Homo sapiens: one gene and its partner. The protein of the gene in region 1 purifies or fractionates together with the protein of each later gene. This does not show direct contact. Each region holds a gene or a part of one and is shown in the gene's direction. Other genes may lie near its edges.

Region 1 (3,915 bases):
ATATTTACTATTGGCCTTTTGCAGAAAAGGATTGCCAGCCCCTAGTCTAGGTCATAACTTTTCTAAAGATCAAAAATATATTCTAAATTTCATTTTCCTGTGTCGCTACCTGAAAGAAGTATTTCATCAACCAGCTTTGTAATTCAAGTCTACATCAGATACTAAATGGCTTAAATTTACAATTATCCAAGTAAGACATATCCATTTCATTGGCCTATCAAGTAGTTTATAACTCCAAAAGAAAATTTTCTTTACTTACACAAACTCTATAGTACTCACCCTATCCATATGATATTTTCACTATACATGTGACCATTCACATATAATACTCCCTGCTGTTTACCAGTTCCTAAATTCATATAATTTATGTATGGAACCAATTCTTATCCCCTTCAATCAAAGTACTAAAATTCTACTTAGAGCAAATGATATGATTTGGTCTTATTCAATTTAATTTCCCCCATTTTGTTGTTTAGAGTTCTAGCATCAGGAAGGCATCATTCTTAAGTTTTGACCTGGCTGTCAAACAACTGAGCAGATCAACTTAATTAGAGAGAACCAAGATGATGTTAATGCCTATTTACATTTTAAGATGAGAGATAAATGATCTTGCATAAAACGTTTATCATTTCTGAGAGTGAGATCTAATGTGTATCGAGAAAGTGGTTTCCAAACTACAAAGTTTCTGAAGAAGTCTCCCTAGATAGAAAGACATCTGTCTACAAGATCGAGTGGGATGCTTCTGTGTGTTTCTAGGGTGGAAAAGTCTGTGAATTTAATAATTAAAATCATGACTCTGGGCCGGGCATGGTGGCTCACACCTGTAATTCCAGCACTTTGTAAGGCTGAGGTGGGAGGATCGCTTGAACCCAGGAGTTTGAGACCAGACTCAGAAACAAAGTGACAACGGTCTCTACAAATAATTATTAAAAAAATCAACCTGGCGTGGTGGTGGGCACCTGCAGTCCCAGCTCCTCGGGAGGATCTCTTGAACCTAGGAAGTCAAGTCGGCCCTGAGCCATGATCGTGCCACTGCACCCCAACCTGGGCGACAGAGTGAGATCCTGTCTCCAAAAAAAAAAAAAAAAAGTACGACTTTGGCCTTCACCTAGCTTAGAGGGTGAGCTCAAACTGATTCCAAAAGAAGTTTTGGTTCTTGCTTCCAGTGGTAACAAGGGGGGTTGGGAAGTGATTAATTAAACATATTTCCTCCACGAAGAGGGTGGACAAGTTCCTTTTTTAGGAAGGAAAAAAGGAGGAGCGTTGGTAGTAGGGATCTTCCACAGAGGGGTAAAGTTAAGGAGGTGGAAATGAAAGGGAAGAACAAAGGGTGAGAAGCAAAATGGTAAAAGCGAAATCGAAAAAGAGAAGTGGGTGTTCCAACAGTAGAGGGGATCATTGACGCAAATTCGTCCTTTTATGTTCCCACACGGCTCAAGTTGGGGAATATAAGTCCTAAAAACAGGCGCACCCTAATCCTACCTACTTCCCACAAGAAGCCTTCACGCAGCCAAGGCCCGCCCCACATAGCACACGCGCGGATTCGTTTTCCGTTTGGTAACTGACAGGAAGCGGAAGCCGTGCGTGGGAGGCCGATTCTAGTGCGCCTGCGTGGCCGCGAATCACCAGCCAGCCTCTGGGTCTGTAGCAACCGCCCAGCGTTGAGGCGCGGCTCATGCCCCCAGTATCCCGGTCCAGCTATTCCGAGGACATCGTGGGCTCTCGGAGAAGGCGACGCAGCTCCTCGGGGAGCCCACCATCCCCGCAGAGCAGATGTTCCTCTTGGGATGGCTGTTCCCGCTCTCACTCCCGCGGCCGTGAGGGCCTCAGGCCTCCTTGGAGTGAGTTGGACGTGGGCGCTCTTTACCCCTTTAGTCGCTCTGGGTCGCGAGGGCGGCTCCCAAGATTCCGCAACTACGCCTTCGCGTCCTCCTGGTCGACCTCGTATAGTGGATATCGCTACCATCGTCACTGCTATGCAGAAGAACGGCAGTCAGCGGAAGACTACGAGAAGGAAGAGAGCCATCGGCAGAGGAGGCTGAAGGAGAGAGAGAGGATTGGGGAATTGGGAGCGCCTGAAGTGTGGGGGCCGTCTCCAAAGTTCCCTCAGCTAGATTCTGACGAACATACCCCAGTTGAGGATGAAGAAGAGGTAACGCATCAGAAAAGCAGCAGTTCAGATTCCAACTCGGAAGAACATAGGAAAAAGAAGACCAGTCGTTCAAGAAACAAGAAAAAAAGAAAGAATAAGTCGTCTAAAAGAAAGCATAGGAAATATTCTGATAGTGACAGTAACTCAGAGTCTGACACAAATTCTGACTCTGATGATGATAAAAAGAGAGTTAAAGCCAAGAAGAAAAAGAAGAAAAAGAAACACAAAACAAAGAAAAAGAAGAATAAGAAAACCAAAAAAGAATCCAGTGACTCAAGCTGTAAAGACTCAGAAGAGGACTTGTCAGAAGCTACCTGGATGGAGCAGCCAAATGTGGCAGATACTATGGATTTAATAGGGCCAGAAGCACCTATAATACATACCTCTCAAGATGAAAAACCTTTGAAGTATGGCCATGCTTTGCTTCCCGGTGAAGGTGCAGCTATGGCTGAGTATGTAAAAGCTGGAAAGCGAATCCCACGAAGAGGTGAAATTGGGTTGACAAGTGAAGAGATCGGTTCTTTTGAATGCTCAGGTTATGTCATGAGTGGTAGCAGGCATCGCAGAATGGAGGCTGTACGACTGCGTAAGGAGAACCAGATCTACAGTGCTGATGAGAAGAGAGCTCTTGCATCCTTTAACCAAGAAGAGAGACGAAAGAGAGAAAGTAAGATTTTAGCCAGTTTCCGAGAGATGGTGCACAAAAAGACAAAAGAGAAAGATGACAAGTAAGGACTTACTTGTTGCACAGCAGGAATTTTAACAACAAAAATTTTATGTGACCAAAAGTGTTAAAAGGCTTTACAGTGCTACTGTACTTACCATATTAGTAAGTCCCTCAGGAAAAAGCTTCTTTTGAGATATCTTTAGCAGCTTATTTTTTGTTATTTTAACTTTAAAAAGTAATATGTGCACATGGTTTTAAAAATATTCAACCATTATAGGAGGAGAGTTAGTAAAAAGTGAATCTTTCACTTTAGCCCCTGACACCTTTCCCCCAAAAATATATATTTTGGTGTCTTATATACAGAATATACATTCTGTGCATATACAAGAGTATATGTTGCAGCATAAAGATTAAAAGCTATTAAAGTTTTTTTTCGCTCGTTACTCTTTTGCCATTCATTTGCCCCGGGGGGACCAAAAGAAGCCCAGAAAGAACAAAGGATTCAATCAAGTGTATACTTCTACTTTCAGTTAATAGACTGGCTTAGAAAATAGAAAAGATTTAGTGGCTCTTACAAATGAAAAGTCTAGAAGAAGGATGGATTTTCTGCATGGCTTTAATTGGACATTGGCTTTCTTCTCCACTTTTTTTCCAAGGGTCATTTTCCTTGGGCTGGTTTCCCTTATATAACAAAAAGGCTGCCAAAGCTCCTGATTTTGGTTATCTTTTTTCTGGTCCATCTCTGAAGAGAGAACATTTCTTAGTTGCTAATCCAAACAAGAATCCAGAGATTCACCATAATGGGATAAGCTTGGGTCACATGCCCACTCAAAACAAGTGTTGTTGCTTAGGAAATAGAATGGCTTATCTGTGGAGTCATAGACCAGTTATAGAGGAATGGATTCTTGAATGAAAATCAGGGTAATTTTGGGCAAGGGGGATAGACAACCATAGACGCGTACTACAGTTTCGAATGCTTTTTTAAAAAACGTATAATGAAAGTACATGTGCTAAAAGTGAACATTTTCTTGAAGAAAAACTTGGCTTCGACTATTAGAAGTCAGATTCTAATTTAAGAGGATATAGGGTTTATTCA
Region 2 (3,815 bases), on another chromosome or scaffold:
TTCCTTTCGGGTTGGTTACTTGTGCTTCATTTTGTTTCTTTGGTGCCGTCACTGTTCCCTGATTGCTCAGGAGCCTGTGGCAATATGTTGGAATGTGCACTTTGAAGAAGCAGGGACTTAATCCAGTATTTACAGACTGGCTTTGTCAGGGAACGCCCTTCACCAGTCAGCCTGTTCACAGATTCTGGGCAGGCCATGTGGTGTGGTTCAAGGGTGGTCAGAGCCAGTATCCAGAGAGGTGACCTGAGGCCTGGCTCCATGAGGGCTGAACTGGCACTGGAATAGGCCTTGTACTTGGGTCTGCAGATGTCAGCCAGGTGCTGTGATGGGTCTCATCCTTGGGTCCACAGGGAAGGGCCTGGAGCCTGAGTTCATGGGGACTGACCTGGCACTAGGACAGATCTGGAAGCTGAATCTATGGAGGTGGGTCAGGATCCTGGGTCTGTAGTGCTAGCCCGAAGGCACAAGCTAAGACTGATATCTTAGCTTATCATGCCTTTATCATGCCCTTATCTCTATGTGTTTCCAGACTTCTGTTTCCTGCACTTTCTGGTTCTTTATTCCATAGGGACATGTTGGATGATTTCTGTCAGTCAGGCACCGTGCTAATGGGATAATTATAAGAGGCCCTGCCCTCGTGGAACCTTTTCTCTGGGATAGTATTAAGACACACAGATCAAAATAACAGTCAGAAATTCCTGATAGGAACCATGAAGAAATTAAGTGATGAGTGAGACAGAGACGAGGTTGGTGGGGCCTCTCGGGGATGGTGATTTTGGCCAGTCTCCAAAGCTGGACAGGGATAGTTGTGCAGAGAGCCAGAAATGGTGCTCCTGAGCAGCCTCCCTAGGAATGACAGTCCCAGGGTGCAGGCGCTGGGGGATACCGAGCAGAGACGGGGCCACCATAGTGAGTGGACAGCAAACAGGTCAGGTGGACCAGCATGGGCAGATCACATGTAGATGAGGTTGGATTTTATTTTGTTATTTTATTTTATTGTTAAAAAAAAAAAAAAGTAGACTGGGCGTGGCATGGTGGCTCACGCCTGTAATCCCAGCACTTTGGGAAGCCGAGGAGGGTGGATCACCTGAGGTCAGGAGTTGGAGACCAGCCTGGCCAATATGATGATACACCGTGTCAACTAAGAATACAAAAAATTAGCTGGGCGTGGTGGTGGGTGCCTGTAATCCCAGCTACTCAGGAGGCTGAGGCAGGAGAATCGCTTGAACCTGGGAGGTGGAGGTTGCAGTGAGCCAAGGTCGCGCCATTGCCCTCCAGCCTGGGTGACAAGAGTGAAACTCTGTCTCCAAAAAAAATTTTAAAAAAGATAAAATATTTCTTTTCTTTTCTTTTCTTTTTTTTTTTTTTTTTTGAGACAGAGTCTTGCTCTGTCGCCCAGGCTGGAGTTCAGTGGCACAGTCTCAGCTCACTGCAAGCTCTGCCTCCCGGGTTCACGCCATTCTCCTGCCTCAGCCTCCCGAGTAGCTAGGATTACAGGTGCCTGCCACCACGCCCGGCTAATTTTTTGTATTTTTAGTAGAGATGGGGTTTCACTGTGTTAGCCAGGATGGTCTCGATCTCCTGACCTCGTGATTCGTCCGCCTTGGCCTCCCTAAGTACTGGGATTACAGGCGTGAGCCACCGTGCCTGGCCAAAAAAAGATAAAATATTTCAAATATTTATATTGATTACATATTGAAATGTAGTGTTTTGGATATTTTTAGGCTAAAAAATAGTTAAAATTAATTTGACCTCATTCTTTGTACTATTTTAATGTGGCTTTCATAGAATTTGAATTTTGCATGTGATTTGTATTATATTTCTGTCAGCAGTGCCAGTCAAAGGTATGTAATAGTGTAATAGATGCAGAATTGATGACAAGACCAAGCCAAGAAGAGCAGATTTCTCTGTCTGGATTCCACTGAGGGCCAAAAGAGAAATTTGCCAGCCATTGTCAGCCTCTGGGAATTCTGTGGTGACTCATTCATTAACTTTTCTCTCCCTTCCCAGGATCTCATAGATCAGAATATACTGGAGCCTGTAACCCGTGCACAGAGGGTGTGGATTACACCATTGCTTCCAACAATTTGCCTTCTTGCCTGCTATGTACAGTTTGTAAATCAGGTACAGAATGTGTGGACCCCTTGCCCAGAGGTGGAGTGCATAGTGATGAGGTGGGAGCTGTAGCCGATGTGAGTCGGGGAACCAAGTTCTAGCCCAACTTGGTAGTCTTCATCATGCCCTGTTCCATGATTATGACTAGTTGATTAAAAAAAAAAAATAGAAATCTTTTTTTTCTTTTCTTTTATTTATTTATTTTTTTGAAGACAGTTTCACTCTTGTTGCTGAGGCTTGAGGGCAATGGCATGATCTTGGCTCACTGCAACCTCTGCCTCCCAGGTTTAGTGATTCTTCTACCTCAGCCTCCTAAGTAGCTGGGATCACAGGCATGCACCACCACACCCAGCTAATTTTTTTTTTTTTTTTTTTTTTTTGGGAGACGGAGTCTCGTTCTGTTGTCCAGGCTGGAGTGCAGTGGCGCGATCTCGGCTCACTGCAAGCTCCGCCTCCTGAGTTCACGCCATTCTCCTGCCTCAGCCTCCTGAGTAGCTATGACTACAGGTGCCCGCCACCACACCCGGCTAATTTTTTTTTGTATTTTTAGTAGAGACGGGGTTTCACCGTGTTAGCCAGGATGGTCTCGATCTCCTGACCTCGTGATCCACCCACCTCGGCCTCCCAAAGTACTGGGCTTACAGGCATGAGCCACCGTGCCCAGCCAGTTTTTTGTGTTTTTAGTAGAGACAGGGTTTCTCCATGTTGGCCAGGCTGGTCTCGAACTCCCGACCTCAGGTGATCCGCTTGCCTCAGCCTCCCAGAGTGCTGTGATTACAGGTGTGAGCCACTGCGCCTGGCCAAAATCTTTTCTGTAATGCATGCCACCAGGCTGGGAAATCTTCTAAACTATTGCCTGCAGCCGGGTGGGGGCATCATTACAGCATAGAGGAGGCCTGGCCCAGTGGACAGGGCTGGGTTCCAGCAGTGGCACAGGTCTGCTCCGTGGCCAGGCTCTCTCCTCCCGGGCTCTGTGCTCCTGAAAGGTGCTTGGCCTCACTTAGCCTTCAGGTTCTCAGGCCCCTTCCTCTTCCCCAGCAAGGCCGGGGCTTTTGGGAAGTCCCCCAAGGGCCCCTCTCCTTGCAGAGTCTCTCAGGTGATGCCCTTGCGCCTCCCTTGCTACTGACCATGCCATCTAAACAATGCTTTTCCCCTAACCTGATATAATAAATAATGAATCACGGTCCTTTTGTATTGGTCCTTACATACAGGGTGGGTGTCCTGTATGAGTCCCGAGTGTGCTGGTGCAGAAACCAGCCCTCAGAACTCCTTGGTGAACTGAGTTGAGCTGAGTGGGAGGGGATGGGGTGGTGAGGAAGGGTGGACAGACATGTCAGGGAAACACATTCTCAAAACCTTATGCTCTGTTGTCAGGTCAAACAAATAAAAGTTCCTGTACCACGACCAGAGACACCGTGTGTCAGTGTGAAAAAGGAAGCTTCCAGGATAAAAACTCCCCTGAGATGTGCCGGACGTGTAGAACAGGGTAAGACAGCAGCCAGGGGCTCCCAACAGCTTTCAGGAACCTGAAAAGACCTGATTCACCTGGTACCTCTATCTCTCCGCTGACCCCATGGATCCTCCAGGCCCGAGGCCTCCCTGAGCCTGTGGGGTTTCCTGAGCCTGCGTTGGCCCCTCCTGGTCCATCTGCCTGTCCCCACCCCTACCCCCTGCAGCAGCCCCTTCCCATACCCTCCCCA

The links.
Region 2: the proteins of NKAPL (region 1) and TNFRSF10D purify together in Homo sapiens (affinity purification with mass spectrometry; one large-scale study listed by BioGRID and IntAct). This does not show direct contact.

What each region holds. Positions count from the first base shown.
Region 1 is NC_000006.12:28,257,697-28,261,611, forward strand, and holds NKAPL (NKAP-like protein), read left to right. Parts: upstream 1-1,600; 5' UTR 1,601-1,675; coding exon 1,676-2,884; 3' UTR 2,885-3,262; downstream 3,263-3,915.
Region 2 is NC_000008.11:23,146,747-23,150,561, reverse strand, and holds part of TNFRSF10D (tumor necrosis factor receptor superfamily member 10D precursor), read left to right. Parts: intron 1-2,010; coding exon 2,011-2,124; intron 2,125-3,489; coding exon 3,490-3,601; intron 3,602-3,815. UniProt on the Homo sapiens protein: Receptor for the cytotoxic ligand TRAIL. Contains a truncated death domain and hence is not capable of inducing apoptosis but protects against TRAIL-mediated apoptosis. Reports are contradictory with regards to its ability to induce the NF-kappa-B pathway.